Regions from separate parts of the Homo sapiens genome. Here region 1 is linked to region 2. The links come from fine-mapping of genetic effects on gene expression. A gene starts in region 2. The other region holds a variant in brackets. All regions are shown on one strand. Distances are between the middles of the regions.

Evidence for each region. PIP is the estimated chance that this variant, and not a neighbour inherited with it, causes the effect.
Region 1: its variant is the best candidate, but not a certain one, in a credible set for the expression of NEGR1 in nucleus accumbens (GTEx, PIP 0.90).

The regions. Positions count from the first base shown.
Region 1 is chr1:72,368,826-72,373,209 of GRCh38, forward strand. All of the region lies in intron 1 of LOC105378797 (a long non-coding RNA gene), which reads left to right. Among named protein-coding and RNA genes, the nearest start is that of NEGR1, 88 kb to the left of the region's middle. The variant T/C (reference allele first, on the strand shown) is at 2,731.
Region 2 is chr1:72,280,581-72,284,964 of GRCh38, forward strand. NEGR1 (neuronal growth regulator 1) reads right to left here and starts at 1,959. Exons shown (of 7, transcript NM_173808.3): 1 at 1,739-1,959. The coding sequence starts at 1,914. LOC105378797 (a long non-coding RNA gene) reads left to right here and starts at 2,354. Exons shown (of 6, transcript XR_947506.3): 1 at 2,354-2,825. RefSeq lists silencers at 2,146-2,205, 2,306-2,395 and an enhancer at 3,777-4,384.

The DNA.
Region 1 (4,384 bases), 88 kb after region 2:
ATATATATTTTGGATAGTTAGGTTTTCTTGTTGAGTTGGAACCTTTGACATTATATAATGATATTCTTTGTTTTTTTTGATCTTTGTTGGTTTAAAGTCTGTTTTGTCTGAAATTAGGATAGCAACTCCTGCATTTTTCTCTTATTCATTTGCTTGGTAGATTTTTCTCCATCTCTTTACTTTGAGCTTGAAGTTGTCATTACATGTAAGATGGGTCTTTTTTATGCAGCATACAGTTGGGTCTTCCTTCTTTATCCAACTTGCCATACTGTGCCTTTAAATTGGAGCATGTAGCCTGTTTACATTCAAGGTTAATATTGATTTGTGTAGATTTGATCCTGTCAACATGTTGTTAGCTGGTTATTATGCAGATTTGATTTTGTGGTTTCTTTATACTGTCAATGGCTTATGTACTTAAGTCTGTTTTTGTGGTGGCCAGTAATGCTCTTTCCTTTCCATATTTAGCACTCCCTTAAGGACCTCTTGGGTGGTATTAACAAATTCCCTTAGCATTTGCTTATCTGAAAAGGATCTTATTTCTCCTTCATTTATGAAGCGTGGTTTGGCTAGATATGATATTCTTGGTTGGAATTTCTTTGCTTTAAGAATGCTGAATATAGGTCCTCAATTTCTTCTGTTTATAAAGTTTCTCCTGAAAGATCCACTGTTACCCTGTTGAGGTTCCCTTTGTAGGTGACCTGCCTCTTCTCTCTAGCTGCCTTTTTTCTTTCACTTACACTTTTACTTTCATTTCAACCTAGAAGAATCTGATAACTGTGTGTCTTGGGGATGGTTATCTTGTATAGTATCTTGCAGGGGTTCCCTGCATTTCCTAAATTTGAATGTTTGCCTCTATAGTGAGGTTGGGGAAATTTTCATGGATGGTAACCTCAAATATGTCCTCCAACTTGCTTGCTTTCTCTCTTCTTTCAGGGATGTCAGTAAATCACAGATTTGATCTCTTTATGTAATCTCATATTTCTCAGAGTTTTTTCATTCTTCTTTATTGTTTTTTTCTTTATTTTTGTCTGAGTTAGTTTGGAGAACTGGTCTTCAAGCTTTGAGATTCTTTCCTCAGTTTGGTCGATTCAACTGGTAATAATTCTGATTGTATTAGGAAATTCTTGAAGTGAGTTTCTCACCTCTATTGGATCAGTTTGGTACTTTCTTAAAATGGCCATTTTGTTTCTTATCTCCTATATCATTTCATTGTATTCCTTAGATTCCTTGGGTTGGATTTTGAGTTTCTCTTGATGGTTGATGATCTTCATTCTTATTCATAGTCTGAATTCTATTTCTGACATTTCAGCCATTTTAGCCTAGTTTAGAACCATTGCTAGAGAACTAATATGATCTTCCAGAGGTCAGAAGACACTCTGGCTTTTTGAGTTGCCAGAGTTCTTGTGCTCGTTCTTTCTTTTCTGTATGGGCTGATGTTCCTTCAGTCTTTCAAATTGCTGTTTTTGAATAGGTGTTTTTTGTTTGTTTGTTTGTTTGTTTGTTTGTTTGTTTTTGCTTTTATCTTCTTAGATGCCCTTGTGGGCTTGATTGTGGTTTAAGGTAGGTTCAGTTGACTGGCTTGAATTCTATTCTGCTTCTGGGTCTTGAAGGAGTCCCTCTTTGGTTGGGTGTTCTGGTGCATGGGGCTCCTTCATGCAGGGACCACAGTTGGCAACCAGGCTGTATTCTTACTGTGTCAGCCCAAATCTGCTCTCCCAGTGCTTCCCAGGAGAAAACAGAGTTGTGCCTGCTCACAGAGTTCCAGCAGAAGTGAGACCACTGAGTTTGAAGATCTAGCATGTGTGGACCATTTGGCTACAGGTGGCAAGGATAGCTAGAGTAGCCCACCCTGCCATCTATGTGTTTCCAGGGCAAGAGGAGGCTATACCTGTATTGGTTAATATTGAGTGTCAACTTGATTGGATATTGTTCCTGAGTATGTATATGAAAGTGTTGCCAAAGGAAATGAACATTTGAGTCAGTAGATGGGGAAAGGCAGACCCACCCTCAATCTGGATGGGCACCATCTAATCAGCTGCCAGCGTGGCTAGGATAAAAGCAGGCAGAGGAATGTGGAAAGACTAGACTGTTTGAGTCTTCCGGCCTCCACATTTCTCCCTGGCTGGATGCTTTCTGCCCTTAAACATCAGACTCCAAGTACTTCAGCTTTTGGACTCTTGGACTTATACCAGTGATTCACCAGGGACTTTCAGGCCTTTGGCTGCAGAGTGAAGGCTACACTATCCGCTTTTCTACTTTTGAGGTTTTGGGACTTGGACTGGCTTCCTGGCTCCTCAGCTTGCAGATGGCCTGTTGTGGGACTTCACCTTGTGACTGTGTGAATCAATTCTCCTAATAAACTCCCCTTCATATATTCATCTATCCTAGTAGTTCTGTCCCTTTAGAGAACCCTGACTAATACAGCACCCTTTGCAAATTCAGGCAAAATTGGCTCATTTGGCTGGAAGCTACCAGTGGTGGGGTTAGGTTGAGTTGTCTGCTCTGCCATCTGGATGCTTCCCAGAATGACAAGAAGCTCAATGGTTACTAGTGGTGGGGGTGGGTGGGGTTGCCCATCCTGCTGTTTGGGTACTTTCCTTCCCCAGACAGCAGGGGGCTGTGGCCACTGGCTGAGTTCAGAGAGAAGTTGTCCTGCTAGACCAGAAGCCACATTGAGCCTTTTCCAGGGAGGGGAAAATCTTACTGCCCCCAGGCACTGCAACTGCAGAC[T/C]CTGTTGGGGGTATGGTGCTGGTGTTGGTCTGCTCCAGGGGCCAAGACTTATAGAAGTCACCTTGGACTTGAGGGGATTTGCCTCTGCAAAATGTTTGAGGGGCTCTCTGCCTCATTCTAGAAGTGAGGTTGGAGGTATGGGAGGGCCAGGGGTATTCACCCATTTCCAGTCTTGCACAGGTACCTGTTTAGAGTATGAATCACCCAGGGGGCTGTGAGTCACTTACCCTTTCCCAGGTTGGAGACATACTCCTGGCACTGCGCTGATCACAGTCAGGCTGGTGCCCAGCTTCACTCCTCTGTGCTCTCAGTGTCTCCCTCCTGCTTTGATTTATCCTGACCTTGTTTCTCAGATGATTGTCATTCACAGTCAGTGTTCACTAGCCTTTTTGTTTCCTCTCCCTGAGAGCAGCACACATGAGCTTTCTTCTAGTCTGCCGTCTTGACCCAACCCCCGCATTCAGTGATATTGAAGTAGGAAGGGACAGGCCTTTCGGTGTCCTCAATAACTATTCTGACTATCTCTTTCACTTTGTTTTTGAGCATTCTGTGTGAAAAGGCTCTCTTTCTTTTACTTCCCAGGTACTATCTTACCTAGTTTTACAAAGATGAAAATTAAACCTTACAATTATACATCTATAGATAGAATCTTTGTCTCTCATTGCAAACTATTTTTACCATTTTTTTACTTCAGTCTGAGTTGGGAACATGAATTGTCCCTTGGAATAAAAGTGAGAGAGCTGAAGAGAAAGAATGTATACAAAAAACACATTAATACTTTGAGATATAATCCTGCCACAGGGTTATGTTTTCCTTCCAACAAAAGAGCAATCCATGGCAATCTCCTTAAATCCTTCTTTTTCCTCTTCTTTAGTTTTAAAAGGTCAGAATGCAGCTGGGCACGGTGGCTTACGCCTGTAATCCCAGCATTTTGGGAGGCTGAAATGGGTGGATCACCTGAGGTCAGGAGTCTGAGACCAGCCTGGCCAACATGGTGAAACCCCGTCTCTACTAAAAAGATACAAAAAATTAGCCAGGTGTAGTGGTGTGCTTGCAGTCCCAGCTACTGAGGAGGCTGAGACAGGAGAATCGCTTGAACCCGGCAGGTGGAGGTTGTGGTGAGCTGAGATCATGCCACTGCACTCTGGCATAGGTGGAATCTAAAACGTATACTACCAATTTGGACCTTTTATCTGAATTTCAGATCTATATTAAAACATCTTCCATATCTCCATTTGAATGTGCAAAGGAAATATCTTATATGAACTGAATTCCTGATTCCTCATATCTAGCAACCACCATGACAACCAAATTTGCTCAAAGTTGTTTCTTTTGCATGATTATAAATTTTAGTAAACAAAAACTCTGTTTCTTCCAATTGTCAGGCCAAATCTCTAGTCTCAAAGACATTTTTGGCCTGTACATTTATTTATCCATCACATACACACATTCTAATTGATTTGTTTATAGATAAGGTAATAGAATAAGAATCTATTTTTAAATTATCATGACTTAGTAAAAACTCTGGTTTGCTAACTTATGTCTGAGTTATTTAGTGTATGTATGTTTGAACATGTGTTTGTATAAAAGTGTCCATTGATGAAAACATTTTTCAAACTTTGTTGTTCAGAATTTTTCTGAAGTTGCTAACTTA
Region 2 (4,384 bases):
CCAACAATGAAAAGTTTTTTTTTACTGTGTAATATCAAAGATATTAGTTACTTTTGTATATAGTGGCATTTGTTATTCAAAACAGAAATTATTAAAAACATATGTATTAGTGTATATTAAAAAATACGATAGTATTCCAAATTTGAACTCATAGGCATGTTCCAAAAGGTGTAAGTCATATACCACACCCACATCATTAAATTTAAATATGTTGCATGTTTCAAACAGAAACATTTCCCACTCTCTTTCACCTTAGACATGTCATGTACACTGATGTTGTGCAAGCCAGACTTACAAGCCAACTACCACCCAGTGGAGAAAAAGAAGATCTTTCAGGGAAATGTGAGGTGGGGTGGCAGGGGGAGAAGGGAGGGTGATGGGAAAGAAATGAAGGAATAGGGCGTTTAGCTTTGTTTAGATCTAAGCTTTGCTGATCATCCATTTATATTTTCATAGGAAATAAAATATTCCCAGACTCCCACTCTGCAGTGTTGCTTAGGGGTAAAATCAGGGTATGGATGTTTATTAATGACAAACCACCTCAGAGCTCAAGCTCAGAGGAAAGAAGGGAAAATGAGAAAAATAAGTAAAAGTGAAGACTGATGGAGGGAGGAAGGTAGGAATAAAAAGGGGATAGAAAGACACAGAAAGAGAAAAAGAGAGAAGCAGAGACAGAGTGAGAGCAGCGAGTGAGACAGGCAGTGTGTACACATGTGTGAGTGACAATGTGGAACAGAGAAGGAGAGTATGCCTTTTAAAAACAGTGAGAGACAATCTGAATGTGGAAGTGGTTCTTACAGCATGGAAGTGCCAGTGCATGTGAGGATGTGAGAGTATGTGAGTTAGTATGTTTATGGAAATAAGATTTATGAGGGTGAGTAAATGGTACTGGAGGGGAACAGTGACCATGCCTGTGTGTGCCACAGGGGTGGGAAACGGTATGGGGAGAGGGATGAGAAATGGGAGTCAAAAGAGGGAAGACAGGGCACAGGATAGGGACATTAAGGAGGAATAAAAAAAATAGACAAAAAGAAAAAAGGGTAAAAGAGAGGAGGAAAGGGGATTAAATGTGAGGAACAGAAATTAGAGTCGTGGAGATAAAAATGAGAAAATATGAGAAGAAATTTTAAAAAGGAGGGAAAAAACAGAAAATAGAAAAGGTATGAAAAGAGATATTGGAGGGAAAAAGAGTTACAAGGAGGTGGGGAAAATGGTATAAGAGAATGAGGAAGGAGAAAAGAAAGAAAACAGAAAGCGGTAAAAGGAAAGAAAGATAAAGAGCAAGAAATCGAGCCTAAGTGTCCAAGTGAGAGGGAAAATAAATGGGAGCAGAGAACAGCAGTTTGAAAGAGTCGCTTATGCTGGAGTAAAATAGAAACAAACCTGATAAACTTGTCAGACTCTCCAGGAGTACCCCATGACAGTAAAACAGAGACCTTGTGCATTGAGTTTCAAAGTGGCACCTGCCCCTCCTTCTAAACCTGACAGTTCACTCATCCCCAGGCTACTTGGCGTTCCGGCAAAGTGCTTTAGCATCACGAGTCCAGCTTGCTACCTGCCCCAGCATAAACGGGCCGGGGCTCCGGGAAGAATCTGCACCTGGAATTCTTGGGATGTGGTCTTTCCATGATGAGCACCACCAGCATTATTGCTTGTGTTATAAAGAAGGCAAAGAGGGTTCAAAGAGAGACAGAAAGATAGACCGAAACAAGTACGAAAAGCACGCCGTTCTTCCTACCTAAGCACCGCCGTGTCCCCTTTTCTGACCATCATGTTGTCCACGGCCGCCCAGGGGAAGTCCACACTCTGTCCAGCCGGGAGGCAGGAGGGTAGCAGGCAGCACAGGCTGAGGAGCACCGCCGCCAGCCACTGGTTCGAGCAACAAGCACCCTGCACCAACAGCATCATGTCCATCCCTGCTAGGGCTGCTCACTCTCCAGCAGCTTTCAGCTCGCACTCCCCCACCCCCTGGTGCTGGCGAGTCTTCCCGGGAACCAGGCGGCGCGCCACAGGATTTTTTTTTTTTTTTTTTTTTTTTTTTTTTTTTGGTGGGTGGGTGGGTTTCTTTTCTTTCTTTCTTCCCCCCACCCCAGTTGTTGGGTGTTGTTTCTCTCTTTTTGTTTTTCGGTGTTTTTGCCTCCCCTCCTCCTCTTCGCTTTCCCTCCCTCCCTCCCCTCCCTCCCCCTGGCACCACACTACACCTCCTCTCGGTTGCTTTTGGCCGCGTCCGGAGTGTGTCTAATTCTCGGGCGGCTCGCACACCATCTAGCGAGGAGGCGAGCGCGCCGGCGAGTGAGGGAGGAGGCGCGGCGGCGGGGGAGGAGGCAGGGCGAGCGGCGGCGGCGGCGGCTGCAATCCCAGCAGCAGCAGCAGCAACAGCAACAGCAGCAGCAGAAGCAGCGCGGAGCGCTGCGCCGGCCGCCGGCTCCCGGGCTCGCGCGCGTTGCCAAGCGGCCGTTTCCTTAGCAACCCCGCCAGGGGACTGGGGATGGAGAAGGGAGGGGGATTAAAAAAATAATAAAAAAAGAAAGAAAAAAGATAGCAAGAAAAAAAAAAGAAAAGCAAGACAACGAAAAAAAAAATAGGAGGAACTGTATCACAATTATGCAAACTAAGGGGGAAAGAGAGGCACCTTAGAATGAAGGCTCTCCTTACTGTCGTAAGCGCTAGAGGGATTCTTTGCTAGAAAAGTCTCCGTGTCAGGGCTGGGGTGAAGAGAGCTGAGGGGCGCTTTGCCTTCCCTCACCGGTGCGTTTTACCTCTCGAGGCACCGTAAGTTTGAAGTCCTCCAAGTTGTGGTCGGCGCCATCATGACGCCGGCGACTGTGAGTTGTTTTTTTGTTTATTTTCTTCTAATCTTGCCTGGGTGGCTACGCTGCAGTTAGCGAGCAGCCAACTAGTTCTCTCTGCGTTTTCTCGGGAATAGGTAGGGACGGTGGCGGGGCGCTGCTTTTTTGCGGGGACACGAGGAGGTGCAAGGCCTTGCGGCAGAGCAGCTTGCGTGTTTGTGGCGGTCGGCCCGTATGGATTGCAGGACGCCCCTCTTTTATCTGTGGGTGTTGACACTAAGTTGTGTGTGTGAGTAGGGGATTGTTTATGGTCAACATGGAGTGTGTGTGTGATAGAGAGCGTGTCGTGCGCGCGGGGGCCTGTGCACGCGCGGCACGCAGGCGCGCTGGGAGGGACGGGGCGGGTCATGCTGGGATGTAGAGTCGGGAAAAGACTGCAATCAAGTGTTTTAATTGTGTAGAGCCCAGGCGGTCCAGTTATGTAAGAGGCAGTTTAACCCATTTGAGCCTATCAGGCCGAATAATCGGCGCATCCGAGTCAAGGCAGGGCAGAGTTAAGGGGTTTAACGAGTCGCAGGGTTGTATTTCTTAACAGCCTCCACACCGCGTTAACAGGCTTGCTCCTCCGCGGTGCAGAGCGGTAACCTCCGCTTCCCCACGCAGCAGCCCCTCCGCAGCTCGCCGGGCTGTTTTCAGCCCTGCCCTGGCCCAAGGCAGAAGGAGATACTAGGCGTGGGGCCACCCCTACTCTTTTTTCTTCTTTCCTTCTTGAACTCATTTCCAGATTCAAGATCCTTAAGCTTTTCCGGGCCATTTGCAAATCAATGCGAGAACCGAGGCTGAGTCGTTAGCAGTTACACCAATCAATCTTGTTCAGCGAGGAGTTTGGGAAGCAGAGCGGGGAAGTGAAAATGGAAAATAAGTAATTAAAAAATAAGCTCCCTCCCCCTCACACACTTTTTCCCTTCCTCCACCCCATCCCCCTTTAGCAGTGTTTGAAGAAGATATTCTTTGCCAGATCCCAGTTCTTCTTTTGGAGGAAATGAAGCAAAACCTCACACGTCCGTAACTCGTTTTCCATAATGCTAGCAGGGTCATTTGGCAAAGCGCACCGAAGCAAGACTCTCTGCAGGGGTCAGCATCCGGCTGCCTCCGCAGACTGAGCTCTTTACGAGGCAGGCAGGGAGTCGTTTTGCTTGGTGGTAGCAGTGTTCAGAGTGATTTTTATCGCCATGCACGGGGATATATGGGGAAAGGGAAGGGTTCCCATCACCTGTGACCACCCAGACTGGCTTACAGACGAATCCTTAACTAGCAACACCTCCCTGCTGAACTGGCACTCCAAGGCTGGGCAGCTAACGGAGACATTTGCGTCAGGAGTCACTGATGTTAGTATTCTGCCTTAACTCTCAAAACCGACTCGGAAACTGAGAGTGCAATAGTTTCAACCGCATTTTGAAACATCAATAAAATGTTAGTCATTTGCGGATGAATGAAAACATTTTCTTTACCGTCTGGTATGCTAGGGAAATAATTGTGAAATGACAGACTCTCACTAATATCGATGCCAAATACCTAAGTAACACTGTCATCTT